Linked DNA regions of Homo sapiens: region 1 is linked to region 2. The links come from fine-mapping of genetic effects on gene expression. Tissue or cell type: whole blood. Region 2 holds a variant in brackets; the other region holds the start of a gene. All regions are shown on one strand. Distances are from middle to middle.

Region 1 (5,128 bases), 59 kb before region 2:
ATTTCTCTAAAACTACTACCGGATCTTTAGAAATGCCAGCCACCAGGGCAGCACTCTTCCAGGCAAACATTATGACTAAACTGTAAAATATTGTGAAAAGTATTCATGAAGGAGGTGAAGACAAAATCACTAAACAGGAACGAGTGAAGAAGCAACATACTGGAACGATGAAATAGGGAGTTTTTTGCAATTTATAAATTTCAGCATCAAATGTTTTTCATTGTGAGGTCTTCTTAATGTTCGTGATTCTAAATGTAATTAAGTTCACCAATACTTTGGGGGTCCCTATTATAGCAGTCAAGGGTCTTCTGTGAAGAACTGAAATGATGAATAACTGATGGTCACAGCCCTTAAAAACCTTATAATTCAATGAAAGGCTAAGGAGAAAAGTCCAGGTGCTCATTAGCTATTAAAATAAGGCAGATTTTAAGACAGCCATTATACAGAGTAAGGCAAAGTATTGTGAAATTACAGAAAAAATAATAATTGAATCCAGTAGAAGTATCTGCAGATGCGGTCCAAAGGAACTGGTGTCCTGGCTAAGACGGAGCCAGCAGTTATGGGCAATGATAGTGTTCCATGTGGAGAAAATAAAGTGATCAGATACCAAGATGGCAACACACAGGCAATATTCAGGGAACACAGACCAGATACGTGTGATCAGGGAACAAATAAAGAGTATGGGGAGAGGAATTCTATAGAAATAGAATGAAAGAAACTTGGGTTGGGACTAGAGTTAAAGAACTTTAGACTGTCAAGTAATGACATAGCATTGAACATTTTTTAGTAGAGTGGCTAAAATGTAAAGAATGGACAGAAAGAACAGCAGTATGCATTAATTTCAGTTTATATAAACACTACCATGGACCAGGTGTTGGGATTAGACTTCAAATTTGGGGATTAGATAATTTGTTGATAGAATGGACAATGGTTTGTGAGGAGAAGAAAGAGGTGAAGCTGATTCTGCAGTTCCAAGTCTGGGTGACTGGGAGGATGTTAATGCCAGTCTCTAAGCAGAAGCAGGTTTGGAGTGGAATAGGTTTCGTTTTGGGCATACTGTTGACATGACAAAACTGATGTCACATATCCTATTTCCTGACTCCTCCTGGGATTGTCCCAGAGCTATTACCATGATTAATAGTTCATATTGAACAACTCCTTGAGAATAAAATGCCACAGGTATCATTTACGTATGACACATTACGTTCTTCTGGCAACTAGGTAGTTGATCTGAAAGACGGGCTGTTCAAAGTTCAAATCATCTTAATTGCACAATGCCGCCGACTGTACGCCCATAAGATACCTTAACCCGGTACACTTCAAAGACAATATTCTCGCCCTTACAACAGAGCTATACATTGTAAACTGCAAACTGAAAAGTAGCCTTTATTCTGAAGGAAAATCAATTTAATATTCTTCCACTAAATTATCAAAACAATTTTTTTGGCGGAGGCTGGGGAGGGGGTGGTGGCTGAAGCCTCGCCAGAGACTGAATGTGGTGTGGGATTCAACTAAAGCAGCACATCTTCAGTAGGTCCCCCGTGGAGGGTAACGAACATCTTGGGTTGTCTTTCACCAGAATTGTGTTCAACAACTCACGTTCTGGAGCCAACCCGCCGCAGATCAGAATCCAGCTTCTGCACCACACAGCCGTGATCTCGGACAAGTTACTCAATCTCTTGTGTCTCAAATTCTTTACCTATAAAACATCTACAACTAGAACTGAAGACTTGGCTGCCAGGCACTGGGCTAGACATAGATTTACAGCGGTGAGGACCACCAAGGGGAGCTAAAATTCGAATGTAGGGAACAGACGATTAACAAGTTAGTTTCAGAATGAAAGACTCGAGTGTAAGAATTCAATGGGATAATTCCTGTAAAGCGTTTAGTACAGTAAAGAGCGAAGGGAAATTCTGAATAAAAGGCAGACACTATTTTAGGATTTGGCCTTCCCCGCCCCCTACCAAAACCACGTAAACTCTTAACAGAAGCGACTTCTTATTGTCAGGCGCCTAAAGGCGGCTTTTGGGATAGGGAGGGTCCTTTCTTCCTCCTTGGGGTAAATGCGATTTAGCAGCCTTTACCGACCTACCCAACCCCAGGGCCATTTTGTGGGAGGAGGTTCTCTCGTGCTAGACAAGTTCCCTCTAATAAAGCCCCTTAGCCGAGATGCCAGGATTGGGGTTAGGGAACCTCGCCGCTCCCACAAGGGCTGGGCACAAAAAACAAACAAAAAAACACAAGTTATTTTGATCTTCCCCCAAAGAATAGTAAAGGAATTTCCCCCGACCCCGGCCGCCAGGAGCCCAGAGACCCCCCAGCCTAAATAACAATGGCGCTGGAGAGGGCGTGGCCGCGCGTACCTGGGGTGGGGGAAGGGGAGAAAGGCGGCCAGTTCGGATCTGAGCCACTCGCAGGGTCACGTGACATCCTGCCTCGCCCCGCCCCGCGAACAAACCTAGGCGGGGAGGGATTCGGGAAGGGGCGAGGAAGCGGAAGGAGCAGGCGGACTGGCGATGATGGGAAGTGACGAAGTGGCGCAGTTCGCTGCGTGCAGCGACGTGGCGGCGGGGCCGGCACCGGGCAGCGGAAGTGGCTCCGGCGGTGGGACTTGAGTGTTTGTGTTTTGGTTCGTGAAGGAGCCGGCGGCTGGCCTTAGGGGAGGAGGCAGAGGGAGGAGGAGGAGGAAGAATTAGTCGGAACTCCAGCGCCGGCGGCGGCGGCGGCGGCGGAGGAGGAGAAAGGAAAGAGGAAGGGGGAGCGGCGAGAGGCGGAGACGGAGCCCGACAGGGGCGGCACCACGGCACGAGCCCCGCACAGTCCAGTGTGAGGGGAGCGGCGCTAAGAGCAGGCGACGCCGCCGCCGCCACCACCACCGCCATAGATACACTCTCATCCTACGGGCCACGCCTGGGCCTTGCTGCCAGGAAGCTTCGGCCCCGCAGCTCGGCTTGCTGCGGTCTCAGGTAACCGAACCGCCCCTCCTCCTGCGCAGCGGGGGCCTGGACCCCAGGTTATCCGCGGTCCCCAGCCTGTCCGCGGCCCTGCCGGTACTGAGACCCCCCACCCCTTCTCCCTCACGCGCAGCAGTGCCCTGGACCAGAGAACTATCGAACCCGGCGTCTTGTTCTGCCAGCCCTGGTGACTCATCCTCCAGGGGCTCTGGAGACCGGGATTTGGGGACTGACTGAGGGAGCGACGGGTGTCACCCTTTCCCTTCTCAAGATGGCGCCGTGGAAAGTGTACTGGAGGCCGCGGTTCCGCCTGGTCTCCGTCCTGGCAGTCCTGGGGGTCTCGGTCAAAGCAAGGCAGGTTCGGGGGAGGAGGTTGGAAAGGCCAAGGGACCTGGCGAGTGCTGCTTATCCAGGCGATCTGTAGTTGGCTATTAGCTACTCAGGTGCTCTCCAAGCAGGAACCTGGGCCTACTGCAGGTGTCAATGTGGGGAGCTCCGCCTATCTTCAACTTCCAAAGATGAGTAGTGTCGGTGGGTGGGAGGCTCGTCAAAATAGGCTGTCTAGAGACTTGTTTTCTGTTTGGAAGGTAGTGAACTACAGCGTTAAATAAATTCAAGATAACAGGACCGCTGAACTCCTTCACTGGGTAGAGACCATGGAACTTGCTCTGGCGTTATCTTCCCTGGAAGCTGCTTACCTCTGAGACTTTCAAACTTGTTAAGTTCTGAACGTCATAGTTCACATACTTGGTTTTTGTCTTGCTTAAATGGAATCAAAGCGTTCAATCAGTTGCCTTTCACATAATAAGAAAAAAACACTTGTACACCTCTGGGAATACTCAAGACTGCTCATAAACTTTATTCCTAAAGTAAAATGGAAGTGATAACTCAGCATTTGTATAAACAAAGTAAATGGAACAGTGCCTGGCACAAAATAAGTGCCCAGTCAATTTTTTGATCAAAGAACCCTTAGAAGGATTTTAACTATAGAATGAATAACAGTTATTTTCAAAAGATTACAAATGTATATTATGCAAAATTCTTGTTTTGCAAAACAGAAGTTTCAGTAAGCAGTGAATACAAATGAATGCACGTAATTTTTAACCTTAGTGTTATGCTAAGTGTATATTTACCATTAACTTTAGTTATTTCCTGTTTGAGATCCTTAGGGGGAGTAGCCACAATTAAGTAGCTTTAAACCTTAAAAGTCAAAGTGAAATCAGAATCTTGTTTGATTTTTTTTTTTAATGGGAGTCTGATATTTTCCCTAAAATTTTGGAAGTGCCGTAGAAATTTGGAGCATATTGTCCTTGATAAGTAATTTCTTGTTTTCTTAAATAAAAAGACAAATGGAAAATGTTTTGATTGTGTGTAATATCTGAAGATGTATTGGTGCATTTTCAGTATATATGATGTTCTATTGATATTTTATCATTTTCTTATCAAAGGAGCACATTATTGGCAATTTCAATCCCTACTATGTATATTAGAGATTGTTTACATGTATTGTTTTATTTAATTGTCACATCAGCTATGCAAGTTAGATATTATGGGAATAGAAACTTGGAAATTAAAGAGTTTGCCCAGACGGAAATTGGTATAGCCAGGATTACACCCCTAAATCTGGTATGTTTGTGGAGGAGGGGGCATTTTTATTTATACCTTGTTATTTGGAAGCAACTCAGATATTACGTCAATAAATCTGTAAATATTTCAGTATGTAATGGTAAAAGATAAGGACTCTAAAAAGCTGGTGTTTAGTTAAGGCAAGGAGGTAGTTTCATTGCCTTAAGAACTAAGATCTCGTGGACATGTTAGGGAATTCATTATGAAGAGCGTATTATAAGCTCATTTTATGGGAAAGGCATATTTCTTTCTTTTGTTTTTAATATAGAGACAGGGTCTCACTGTGTTGCCCAGGCTGGTCTCAGAGTCCTCCTGCCTCACCCCCAAAGTGTTGGGATTTACCGGTATAAGCCACTCTGTCCAGTGTGAAAGACGTATTTCTTATATGAGGTAGCTAAATGAAATATAGCAGGGTTTTTAGAGAGGGAATCATCAGGTTTAATATATTAGCATGTATTCGGATTTTGATTAAAGATAGAAGGAAACTGTTAAGATTGGTTTGTGAGTGGATTGAAAAAGGTTCTTCAAATATTCACTAATTCCTTAGA
Region 2 (5,213 bases):
GCGCGATGGCTCACACCTGTAATCCCAACACTTTGGGAGGCCGAGGCGGGTGGATCACCTGAGGTCAGGAGTTCGAGACCAGCCTGGCCAACATGGTGAAACCCCGTTTCTACTAAAAATACAAAAAATTAGCTGAGCGTGGTGGCTTATGCCTATAATCCCAGCTACTTGGGAGGCTGAGGCGGGAGAATTGCTTGAACCCAGGAGACAGGAGGCGGAGGCTGCAGTGAGCAGAGATGGCGCCACTGCACTCCAGCCTGGGTGACAGAGTGAGACTCCATCTCAAAAGATAAATAAATAAATAATTTAAAATTTTAGTTAAAATTTTAATCAAAAAATTAAAAACAGAAAAAAGCCCCTAGAATAAGGATATGAAGCAAGTACTTTTTGTACAGCTGTACAATGTTTTTGTCTTTTAAGCCAAATGTTACAAAAGAATCAAAAAGTTGTAAAAATTTAAACGTTTACAAAGTAAAAAGTTACTGTAAGCTAAGATCAATTTATTATTGAAGAAAAAATAGTTTATAAGGTTAGTGTAACCTAAGTGTATTGGGTTTATAACATCTGCAGTAGTGTGCAATAATGTGCTAGACCTTCACACTCATCACTCACTGACACCCAGAGGGACTTCCAGTCCTGCAAGCTTTATTCATGGTAAGTCCCCTATTTTAAAATGTTGCATTTTTTATTCTTTGTACAATGTCTTATTGTACCTCTTCTGTGTTTAGGTACACAAATACTTACCATGTGTTACAATTGCCTACAGTATTCACTACAGTAACGCACTGTACAGGTTTGTAGCCCAGGAGCAATAGGCTATAGCATATAGCCCAGGTGTTAGTAGGCTGCACCATCTAGGTTTGTGTAAGTACACTCTATGACGTTCACACAACAGCGACATTGCCTAACAATGCACTTCTCAGAAAGTATCCCCATCGTTAAATGATGCATGATTGTAATTACTTTTGTACTGCATTTCGTCTGCCTTAAAACACTTGTGTTCTAATTAGAGAGTTCACAAGAAAATGAATGGATTATGCCAAAACCCAGCAGAATAAGAAAAAGAATTGATAGTAAGGACAGAATTTTTTTAAAAACTACAACAAAGAGGTACAGGGCGAGGATAGGAAAGAAAAGATGTAGAGCTGGATGATATATTTCTGGAAAGCAGGCATCATTTTATACGCCTTCCTATCAGAAACATCTAGTACTGTACTCGGCACCTGGGGCCATTTTTATCCATTTCATGTACAATTTCTAGGGCATGAGATATTTTCAAGGGCCTATGAAAAGTTAGAGACCAGAAAAAAAAATACTTTGGTTACAAAATATTTTAAAACTTGATAAAAATCAAAGTTAGCTGGGTGCAGTGGCTCATACCTATAATCCCAGCACTTTGGGAGGCCAAGGCAGGGAGATCACTTGAGGCCAGGAGTTTGAGACCAGCCTGGGCAACATAGTGAGGCCTCGTCTCTATTAACAATTAAAAAAAGAAAATCAGGTGTGATGGTATGCATGCCTGTAGTCCGAGCTACTCAGGAGGCTGAGGTGGGAGGATTTCTTGAGCCTGGGAGGTGGAAGCTGCAGTGAGCCATGATTGCACCACGACACTCCAGCGTGGGCTACAGATCGAGACCCTGTCTCAAAAATAAATAAATAAATAACTTTATATATACATTTTTTTTTTTAAATTTATTTTTTTTGAGACGGAGTTTCGCTCTTGTTGCCCAGCCTGGAGTACAAGGGCGCAATCTCGGCTCACCGCAACCTCCACCTCCTGGGTTCAAGCGTTTCTCCTGCCTCAGCCTCCCAAGTAGCTGGGATTACAGGCATGCACCACCACACCTGGCTAATTTTGTATTTTTAGTAGAGACAGTGTTTCTCCATGTTGGTTAGGCTCGTCTTGAACTCCCGACCTCAGGTGACCTACCTGCCTCAGCCTCCCAAAGTGCTGGGATTACAGGCATTAGCCACTGTGCCCAGCCATAAATATTTATGAAATGTGACATTACAAAAACTAGTCAACTTCAACTCAGTTCATATATAAATTGTATTTGAGATGGGTACCTTTTAATGTGTTAGAGTAATGAGGGATGGAGCCTACGACACTAAGAATACTTGGAGCCTCTAAGTACTTAAAACATCTCAGACACATAATAGATATTCAACAGTTGAGTATCTATTGATATTCTATAGATAGTTGGTAGTTAGATAAGAAATTAACCCACTTAATTATAATGACAATATGATAATAATAATGAAATATATTTTATTATAAAAGGTATGCATCGTCATGTTCTTAAGTTCAATGCAGAAGGATACAAAGTAGAAAACAAAAGAATGTTTTTGTCTTCCCACCCCACTTGAACCCGGGAGGTGGAGGTTGCGGTGAGCTGAGATCAAGCCATTGTACTCCAGCCTGGGCAACAAACCCCAGCCCCAATAGTAATTATGTTATCTATCTTTCCAAATATAAATTTGAATATAAGATCTTTTCTGGCCCTGTGCAGTGGCTCACGCATAATCCCAGCACTTTGGGAGGCCAAGGCAGGTGGGTCACTTGAGGTCAGGAGTTTGGGACTAGCCCAGCCAACATGGTGGAACCCTGTCTCTACTAATAGTACCCCAAAAATTAGATGGGCGTGATGGCACACCTGTAATCTCAGCTACTCGGGAGGCTGAGGCAGGAGAATTGAATGAACCTGGGAAGTGGAGGTTGCAGTGAGCCAAGATCAAGCCACTGCACTCCAGCCTGGGCGACAGAGCGAGACACTGTTCAAAAACAAAAACAAACAAATAAACAAATACATTTTCTGAAGGCAAGTAGGGACCCATTTTGCATACCATCCTAAAATCTGATGTTTTCAGTAAATGCTAGGTCATGCACAGGAAGTTTGAATATGGAAAAACAAAACAATATACATCGTCCCTAGGTATCTGTGGGGCTTGGTTCCAAGACCACCCTCTCCATGCATGGATACAAAAATCTAAGGATGCTTAGGTCCCTGATATAAATGGCGTAGTATTTGCATCTTCCTTGTATGTTGCCTCACTGTGTCACCCAGGAGTGCAGTGGCCTAGAACTCCTGGGCTCAAGCCATCCTCCCACCTCTGCCTCCATAGTAGCTGTAACTACAGGCGTGCACCACCAC[G/A]CCTGGCTAATTTTTTCATTTTTAGTAGAGATGAGTTTTTGCCATGTTGGCCAAGCTGGTCTTGAACTCCTGGCCTCATGTGATCCACCCGCCCTGCCTCAGCCTCCCAAAGCGCTAGGATTACAGGTGTGAGCTACTGCATCGGCCCTCCCGTATACTTGTTTATTTATTTATTTGAGACGGAGTCTTGCTCTGTCGCCCAGGCTGGAGTGCAGTTGTGTGATCTGGGCTCACTGCAACCTCTGCCTCCTGTGTTCAAGCAATTCTCTCGCCTCAGCCTCCCAAGTAGCTGGGATTACAGATGCCCGCCTAAAATATATATACGTATGTGTGTATATATATATACATATATATACACACATATATATGTATACACACACACACACGTATACACACACACACACACACACACACGTATATATATTGTATTTTTAGTAGAGATGAGTTTTCACCATGTTGGCCCAGGCTCGTCTTGAACTCCTGACTCAAGTGATCCGCCCAGCTCTGCCTCCCAAAGTCCTAGGATTACAGGCGTAAGCCACCGCACCCGGGCCCTCCTGTATACTTTAAATCATCTCTTGATAGAATATACATAATCAATGTAAATGCTATGTAAATAGTTCTTATACTGTATTTTTATTTGTATTATTTTATTGTTGTATTGGTTTATTAGTATTATTATTTTAGGAGGTATTTTGGGAATATTTTCTATCCAAAGTTGGTTGAATTCACAGATGCAGAACCTTCAGATATGGAGGACTGACTCTGTTGTGAAAAATGTAGACTTAGGATTTTTTTTTCAGGGGAGGAAAAAGCATGTAACTTTACGTAACTGACTGAAAAATACATTCAAGAAATAGTAAATAGAGGCCAGGTGCGGTGGCTCACGCCTGTGATCCCAGCACTTAGGGAGGCCGAGGCTGTCGGATCACCTGAGGTCAGAAGTTCGAGACCAGCCTGGCCAACATGGAGAAACTCCGTCTCTGCTAAAAATACAAAATTAGCCAAGCGTGGTGGCGTATGCCTGTAATTCCAGCTACTTGGGAGGCTGAGGCAGGAGAATCGCTTGAACCCGGGAGGCGGAGGTGGTGGTGAGCCGAGATCATGCCATTGCACTCCAGCCTGGGCAACAAGAGCAAAAATCCGTCTCAAAAAAAAAAAAAAAAAAGAGAGAGAGAGAATAAAAGAAATAGGAAATAGAATATAATACGACCTCATGAACCCTGAAGGAGTGGGAGTAATCGTTATGTCCGAATAATCTCCTAGTTGTAACTTCTGTGACTGCAGGGGTCATGGAATCACCAGTCCCCTTTCTGCCAGATGTGGCGCTGCCAATCTCCTTAACTCGATAGCCAGATCTTTTAATATCTGTAAAAACCTATAAAATTGAAATGTGTGCCCTTCTTTCTAGCCTCTGGATAGACTTATTTTACTAAGCTCAGTTCTTTCAAGGTTGCATCTATCCAAGTGTAGGTCGCCAGCACGCTGGACGGTATGTTTCATCCGGAGAACTCGACCATTCGGTGGCGGCGGCTGTTACTGGCGGCAGCGGGCCTGTCTGCTTGTGAGGATCAGCTTCTGAAGCTCCTTCTTAATTTCCTTCTGGGTAATGTGCGACTCCACAGCCATCTTTCTCCTACGGTCTCAGACTTTGAATAAAAACAAAAACAAGTTGGTCGCGGTGGCTCACGCCTGTAATTCCAGCACTTTGGGAGGCCGAGGAGGGCGGATCACGAGGTCGGGAGTTTGAGACCAGCCTGACCAACATGGTGAAATCCGTCTCTACTAAAAATACAAAATTACCTAGGAGTGGTGGCTCATGTCTGTAATCCGAGCTACTCGGGAGGCTGAGGCAGGAGAATCGTGTGAACCCGGGAGGTGGAGGTTGCAGGGAGCCGAGATCACGCCATTGCACTCCAGCCCGGGCAACAAGAGTGAAACTCTGTCTCAAAACAAACAAGACAACCAAACAAAAAAACTGTCCCTGGGCGGGCGCTGTAGCTCACACCTGTAATCTCAGCTACTCAGGATGCTGACACTGGAGGATGCTTGAGCCCAGGA

The links. PIP is the estimated chance that this variant, and not a neighbour inherited with it, causes the effect.
Region 1: it holds the start of RAB5A, and the variant in region 2 is fine-mapped to the expression of RAB5A in whole blood (TOPMed, PIP 0.97).

The regions. Positions count from the first base shown.
Region 1 is chr3:19,944,556-19,949,683 of GRCh38, forward strand. It overlaps RAB5A (RAB5A, member RAS oncogene family), which reads left to right and starts at 2,542. Exons shown (of 6, transcript NM_004162.5): 1 at 2,542-2,966. It also overlaps a transcript of EFHB not described here. RefSeq lists enhancers at 1,423-2,024, 2,435-2,604, 2,530-2,699, 2,561-2,610, 3,131-3,180 and 1 more.
Region 2 is chr3:20,003,467-20,008,679 of GRCh38, forward strand. All of the region lies in intron 1 of PP2D1 (protein phosphatase 2C like domain containing 1), which reads right to left. LOC124909352 (a long non-coding RNA gene) reads left to right here. Exons shown (of 2, transcript XR_007095843.1): 2 at 4,626-4,830. It also overlaps the pseudogene SAP18P3. Among named protein-coding and RNA genes, the nearest start is that of PP2D1, 6.2 kb to the right of the region's middle. The variant G/A (reference allele first, on the strand shown) is at 3,153.